Linked DNA regions of Homo sapiens: region 1 is reported to be linked to region 2. Evidence: microRNA targets listed by miRTarBase, many of them from high-throughput screens and not tested one by one. Region 2 holds a microRNA gene; the other region holds the end of a gene's coding sequence.
Evidence for each region. The annotated mature microRNA hsa-miR-3659 reads UGAGUGUUGUCUACGAGGGCA and lies in region 2 at 1,702-1,722, opposite strand. An mRNA with a match to its seed (bases 2 to 7 or 8) in the 3' UTR can be bound and repressed. Matches are read on the target gene's strand: a 7mer-m8 pairs with bases 2 to 8, a 7mer-A1 pairs with bases 2 to 7 and ends in A, and an 8mer does both.

Region 1 (3,000 bases), not on the chromosome of region 2:
TCAATGTTTCTAGGAAGCTGAGCTGAACACATTACGATGGATGATGGAAACATAAGGTACATTTCTTTTTTGATATTTCTGAGTTAATCTGAAACGCCTTAGCGGCAGGACGTTGGAAAGCTAAAGTTGGCCCGTTTTGCTGGCTTTTGTAGTTTGAGTTAACAACCAACTGAATTAGCTGATAAGATCTCAAAACAGTGAGGTAAGTACACAGCTCGGAGTTTTATAATGCTTTTTTTCTCTTGCAGACTATCAAGAAATCCAAGTGGTAATGGGCGAAGTTTATTCAGCATCCGGCAATGGACTTATCGTAGTTGGGGAAACGGGTGTTCCGAATAATATCCTGGAAGTTATCAGGACACCTATTTTAAATATAGGCCTGAATTTTGTAAAGTAATATTTAAGGTGGTCCGTGATAATTAAATAAAATGCTTAATTCATGTGGCTACTCATTGTTCCTTGACTGAGTGATTAATAGACGGAAAGGTAGTTAATAGCATAATACCTCCTATTTAGTGTTACACGCTCATGTGGAAGTAGTGTGAGTACAGTTCTAAGGTAATTGCAGCCTTTGTGAAAAATGTAAAATATAAAAATTACCAGGCTACCCCCAAGGGAGACAGCAGACTCTTTTTAAACCATACAAAAATTTAAGGCAGTTATACAAGGTGGAAAATTATGTATTTATTTACACAAATATGCACAGAACACTTGTATCTTTCAAAAGTCACACTTAAGACATAGTAAAAGCATGTTGTATGAACCATGTATTCTTAAGGATTGAGCAAACTGCAGGCTGCTTGCTGCCTTTTAGGTTTGCTAGTCCCTGATCTACTTGAAACAGATGTTGCTTGCCCCAACACTAGTTTAATTATAAGGGCAGCCTGTGAGAAAGTTTCAATAGACATTTTTCTCACCTATATTGCACGTTTTTCTGAAGCCCTTGTGCAAGTGTGTGTGCCATGTGTAGTTCTATTTACATATAAACGCTACTTTAAAAGTTTATCAAAATCATGAGTTTTTACAAAAGTTTTTAATGCTCTTCTGCATTATATGCAGCATTGCAAATCTGCAAAGTAGTAAAACTATAAAGCACCTTTAGGTTTGCACCAGTTATTACAGAAATGGGGATTTGTGAAAAGGATGTAATTTGATGTAGAAGGGCAAAGTCCTTTAATGACTGGCATTCAAGAGGATTACTTAAAACAATTTGTAAGTTCATGCTAACCTCTTCCCTATATTTATACTACTGGGACCTGGGGAAGGATCCATGACATGGAAGTATCTTGAGTGTGCCTTTTAAATTTGAGCATTACTGCTAAGAATGTTCTGTAAAGGTGCATAGTTAAGCAGCTATCCCTTAACTCTTGGAGAAATAGCCATAGGGAAACCAATCATTTAGGTAGGAGAACCATGGGGAAAAAAATCAGCATTTTTTCTGGAGTTTGGAATCAGTTTCACCAACTGGTCTCACTTTGAGGCAAGCCTGTTTTCCCCCATTTGAAAACAAGGGCTACTACCATAAGATTTACTGGCCTTTTGCAAATTGTCAGTGATGTGCAAAGCTGCCTAATGCAGTGCCTGGCATATGTTATAACTGCTGTATGTATTAGAACTTTTCAATGTGTAGGCCAGGAAAGCATTTTGACTAGTATATTTTAAGATTGGATTGTATCAGGTTGGGCTTGGGAAAACCTGCAGGTATAAGTCAGTTACAGGGAAGTGTCAGTGGGTGGCACTCTTACATCATGGTCGGGGAACGTGGACTATGATGAGGTGCTTGTTAAAAGCAAATATAGTAGATATGTTAATGTGTTGGATAAAATAGGTTGTATGTCCAGCTGGCATTTAGTTACCAGAAATCCTTTCAAATTTTGCTAGTTTATACGCTGTAGGTAGAAAGTATTTTTATCTTATGGTTTCTGTAGCACTTGGTACTCAACAAGGATACTTGTTTCCAAATATCAGATCACTTTGAGAATATATTGTGACAGGCAGATGTCCTTGAGGCTTTACTACTCCTATTCAGGCCTAAAAGTTTATAGTGGAATTCTTTAACCACTGATTTCCTCACTTGACAAAGGCTACAGAGAATATGAAGATTTCTTGTCAAGTCTTTTGAAAAGACCTAAGCATAAATATGCCACTCATGAGTGTAGTAAAGGGTACCGCATTTATGTCAAATGTGGGTATTTAATATGATTTCAGACACCACTGATTCAATTAAAAGGGGTTCTCAGTTCAAATGTAAAAATGATCTTTTGTAAAATCAGCATAGAATGATTTTGAGAAATAGGTAGGGGATAGATGAGGCTTAGAATAAGTCACTCCAGTGAAATTAGGGTAGAAAATGTTCATTTAAGGATTATCACTTCCACTACACTGAGGCCTCTGAAAATGTTCACAAATTTCTCAAAAGCAGCAGGGGGTACACAATTTTTTACCACAACACAAAGCAAAAACAGATCTTGCCATTTGTTGTCATCTCTGCTGAGTGCTAATAGTGGGGGTTCAAAGTTTTCCATTTGTTTAAATGCTGCTTTGAAGTTTCCATGAAGAATTACAGTTTGGTGACACTTTTTATCCAAGGTACAAAGGCTGAGACTTTGGTATAAACACCAGGAGAATCCTTGACTCCACAGCCATACCCCCAGGAGGTCACCCCATACACCACCCAGCTCTCTCCGGGCCGTTCACACATGAGTGGTCCTCCGCTGTCTCCCTGGCAGCTGTCCACGCGTTTGTGTTCATGGAGGTTTCCAGCACAAAGCATTCTCCCTGTAAACCGACCCTTATAACGTTCTTCACAAAACCTTTTAGGAAGTAAGGGAATGGCTGCTTGTTGTAGTGTTCTTGAATAGGCTCGTCCTACTCAGACCAAACATCTGATTAGTGGCATTCCAGATAACCATCGCAACATTTAACAGTTACTGAGCATGTAATAGTTATGAAAATAAAATCCCTGTTGTGGCATTAGTGTAGTTTAAAATGAGCAATGAC
Region 2 (4,548 bases):
CACTGTCTTCCCTAAAAGGTTAACCTATTTACCCCACCCACAGGCCTCTGCATGACAGGTCTCTCCTCTCTCCCTTCTCCTACAGTGGTCCCAGCTTCCGGAGCCTTTGTAATTCTTTCTAAACTCCACTGTCTCTCTGTCTCGTTCATCTTGGTTTCTCAAATGCCTGATACATGGTATATGTATGAGTGAATGAAGAATGAATGAACAAATTACATTTCATAGGTATCTGAAACTCAAGATGTCTAAAACTCATCACCTTCCCTCCAAAGAAAACTCTTCCCTTCACCCTTCTGTGTTCACTGTCTCCGTGAACATCCTCATCAACCATCCAATCTCTGCAGCCACAAACTGGATGTCCCCCAACTCCTGCTCCTCCCTCTCCCTCCCCTCACTTTGTTGTCTAATCAATCTCTGGATACTAATCGTTTTACCTCGGGAATACCCTCTGATTCCATCCCCTTTCCTTTCCCCCTGCTGCCGTGGCTCCAATCTCTGTCTCCTGGCATATCCCTCTGAGTCCTTCCTCACTGTGAAAGCAGAGTGATATTTCTACCCTGACCATGACCCTGTCCTTCTTGAAGGCCTCCAGTGAGTCCCGCTTCCCTCAGGATATGCGCCCTGGGTGGTCTAGTCCAGCTACCCCGACTCCTGACAATGAGCTCCTTCCTGGTCTCCAGCCTCTCTGAACAGGCCAGGTGCTGTCACAGTGCCACATCCGTGCTCCTCAGACTCTACTTCTCATCTGGCTAACTCCTAGTCACCCTCCAGGATCCCACTCAACAGCCGCCGCCTCAGAAACTCTCCCCAACCCCACCTCACCCCTACTCCTACTCAGGGCCAACTGAGCTTCCGAGGAGCACCCTGCGCTGGCCTCTGCCATCAACCAGTAACCCGGGTCCTCACTGCCCACTGAAGGGCTCATCTCTCCCACTGCCCTGTGAGCCCATCAGCGGCAGGGTGCCCAGGGTCCAGAGAATACGCATGTCACTGTCTCCAGTGAGTTGTTCTTTCCACTGTGCTGCAACTTCATTTCACAGTCAGTCTAGCAAGCATTTCACACGCACATGCGCACACACACACACAAATTGAGACATGCATAGGAATGCACATACAGAGACACACACATAGTCATACTGACACACAGATGCACAGACACAAATAGCAGATCCCACAGACATACCTAGTGACCCACACAGAGGCATTCAAGCGTGGGCAGCCACTGATATACACATATGAACATGAACATCCATATCCATGCACATATGCACATGCATGCACAGCCCACATGGATGCACAGAAACACACAGACACACCCAGTCACAAATACATAGACCGGCAGACAAGCACAACAGGCACACAGAAATGTACATACACAGCCAGGTACAGTGACTCACGCCTGTAATCCCAACAATTTGGGAGGCCAAGGTGGGCGGATCATTTGAGGTCAGGAGTTCGAGACCAGACTGGCCAACATGGTGAAACCCCATCTCTACTAAAAATTAAAAAATTAGCCAGGCGTGTTGGCAGGTGCTTGTAATCCCAGCTACTGGGGAGACTGAGGCAAGAGAATCGCTTCAACCTGGAAGAAAAAAAAACAAAATGTACATACACACACATTCTGAGATGTACACATATAAAACCATAGACTCATATGCACTCATGCCCAGACCAACACAGGCACACACACAGACACAAGGATGCCCTCGTAGACAACACTCATGTCTATACAAGCAGCACGTGTGTTGTGTACAAGGGCATCCTTGTATCTGCTTGTAGAGACACAAGCAGCACGTGTGCATCCACACACAAGGACACATATGCATACCACAGACACTCACAAGAAGCAGCATTTACATTGGCCAACATACACAGATGTGTGCATGTAGACAGGCTCCCCGAGACAGGTTAGTGAATGATGCAGGTCAAACAGAGCTGTCTGCTAGGGGCGGGGGCCTGTCTGAGGTACCTCGGGGCGCTCACATTTTTGCAGCTCAGGAAGGCAGCTGACATACCAGCCCGGCTGTGATGGTATTTTGCATAAATGCTAATGTATTAATTACCATGTACAGTACACAGAGCTGCCATTTAAAAGAAAAAGTTAAGACTTTTTAATTCAAAAGCCCCATGAGGGGTGGGGGTGGGCGTGGGGTACCTGTCCTGCATGGAGGGTGGAGGCAGGCAGGGCAGCCACACCCATGCCCACTGTACCTGCACTTGGGTTGCCAAGCCTTCCCCAGGCCAGCCAGTCAGTCCTCTGCCTCAAGATTCTTGGTGCTTTCTGGGAACTCTGGCACAGCCTGGAGCTGCTGGCCCAGAAGAGGGCTGGGGAGAGTGTGGAAGGCAAGTAAGTCCTAAGCAGACAGAGTGGAGCATCCTCACAGCAGGGCTGGGGCAGGCGTCACAGCCAGAGGTCGCTAAGCATCACAGTCCCTCCCACCATTCAATCCATTCGCTGCACAGCAGCTGGAGTCATCCAGACAGTGGATCAGACTATGTCACGCCCTGCTTCAAACCTTTCAAAGGCTTCCTATTGCTCTCAGAACAAAGTTCACACTCCTTAGAAGGGCCTGCAAAGCCTGGCATGACCGCGTTCTCTCCTGCCTCACCTGACCTGGCTTCTCTCCCATCTCTCCATGCCTCTCCTGTCACACTCCTCCTTCCTCACTAGTCACCTGAGCTTGCCCGCTCTTCCCCTAAACTTCTCATCAGCCTAGCCTCAGCTCACCTGTCACCACCTCGGGAGACCTCCCCTGACTGCCCCTGACCGCCCTATCTGAAGGAGCCCTTCTCCCCCTCACCCTCTTTTACATCACCAGGGTTTGGGTTTTGGTTTTTTTGTCTTCATAGAACATTTTGCTGTTTCAACCCTCCTTGTTGATTTTTTTACTATCTGTTGCCCCCACTGTACGATGAGCTTTAGAAAGCCAGAACCTGAATGACCTTGTTTCCTCATCATATCGCAGCCCCTAGGATGGGGCCTGACACTGTGCAGGTGTTCAGTGGCATGTCTGTTAAAGGAGTGAATGAACTTGGAATGAACGAGGGATGCTGTTTCTGGCCAGCTCTGTCTCAGCGCCTAACTCTTGCAGCAGCACTCTCTCCACCTGCCTGGCAGGACCACCCTGGCTGTTCTGCCTCCCATCGGGGGCTCACATCCCAGATCCGGAGACTGAGGCCCATCATGGGATCATGTCCACCATCCCGTGACCTCTTAGAGGCTGGCGTCCAGGCCTCCCGAGCCTCCCACCAGCCCACCTCTCCTGCCACGTGGAAAGAAGCCTCAAATGATACAATTGAACAGCAACAACAAAACAGCTCCTCCACCCTCACCTTCATAGTCCACTTCCATATTAATTGTCGTATGCAGGCCCAGTGAGGCAGGCATCATTTCCCAAATTTCGTAAGAAATTAAGGTCCAGAGATATATGTGACTCCCCTAACGTCTCACAGCTCATCAGAGGAGTCAGGATTTAAATCTGTGTCTGAGGCCAGGTTCGGGGCTTCCTCCACTTACCAGTGACCTACTCTCCCCGAACCCTGAGGGATGCTCCAGGAAGCTAGGGCTCAGCAGTCATGGAAAGCCTCCCACATGCCTCCCAGGCCACCTCTTCCCCCAGGAAGCAGGAGAGTCGAGGTGGGCTTGCCGGGCAGGTGGAGAGAGCACCTGAGACACAGCTGGTTGGCTCACTTCCCAAACACAGGGTAGAGTCCTCAACCCCACCTTAAGGCACCCTCCCACACCCACTCACCTACCAGGTGCCACCATTCTAGGCCCTACGTCTCTCCCAAACTTGCCCTCTTCTCCTGGTGCCCACTGCCCCTGCCCTAATCCAGGCCGCATCGCTGTCATCTCTCACCAGGTCTCTTTTGACAGCCTGCAGTCTGGACCCCCATCTGCCCTCCACCCAGCAGCCAGAGTGATCTTCTCGAAGCTTGAATCCCATTGCCCTCCCCAGTGGCTTCCCCACTCCCCATCCAAGCTCCTCCTGAGATGGACCTCACGGTGGTTTGCAAATGTGCATCATTAAGAATGCATGTTTCCGTGGCCGGGGGGTGGTGGCTCATACCTGTAATCCCAGCACTTTGGGAGGCCAAAGTGGGCGAATCATTTGAGGTCAGGAGTTTGAGACCAGTCTGGCCAACGTGGTCTACCAAAAACACACAAAAAATTGGCTGGGTGTGGTAGTGCACGCCTGTAATCCCAGCTACTCGGGAGGCTGAGGCAGAATTGCTTGAACCTAGAAGGCGAAGGTTGCAGTGAGCCGACATCGCACCACTGCACTCCAGCTTGGGCAACAGAGCAAGACTCCATCTCAAAAAAAAAAAAAAAAAAAAAAAAGAATGCATATTTCCTAATTTCAGATCCTGGCTCTGCCACTTACTAGCTGTGTAACCTTGAGCAAGTCACCTAACTTCTCTGTGCCTCAACTGCCTGGTCTGTAAAATGGGAATAATAATAGTATCTCCCTATTATAGGGTTGTTGTGAGGACGAAATTAGTTAAAATATGTAAAGCACCAAGCCAGTGCCTAAAACCTGAAGGACA

Region 1: miRTarBase lists PRSS12 as a target of hsa-miR-3659. Seed matches in the 3' UTR shown: 7mer-A1 at 2,151-2,157 and 7mer-A1 at 1,288-1,294.

The regions. Positions count from the first base shown.
Region 1 is chr4:118,279,376-118,282,375 of GRCh38, forward strand. PRSS12 (serine protease 12) reads right to left here. Exons shown (of 13, transcript NM_003619.4): 13 at 663-2,868. The coding sequence ends at 2,561. SNHG8 (small nucleolar RNA host gene 8) reads left to right here. Exons shown (of 3, transcript NR_034011.1): 2 at 14-56; 3 at 249-448. Among named protein-coding and RNA genes, the nearest start is that of SNORA24, 1.7 kb to the left of the region's middle.
Region 2 is chr1:38,086,463-38,091,010 of GRCh38, reverse strand. It overlaps MIR3659 (microRNA 3659), which reads right to left and starts at 1,780; the gene lies at 1,682-1,780. All of the region lies in intron 1 of MIR3659HG (MIR3659 host gene), which reads right to left.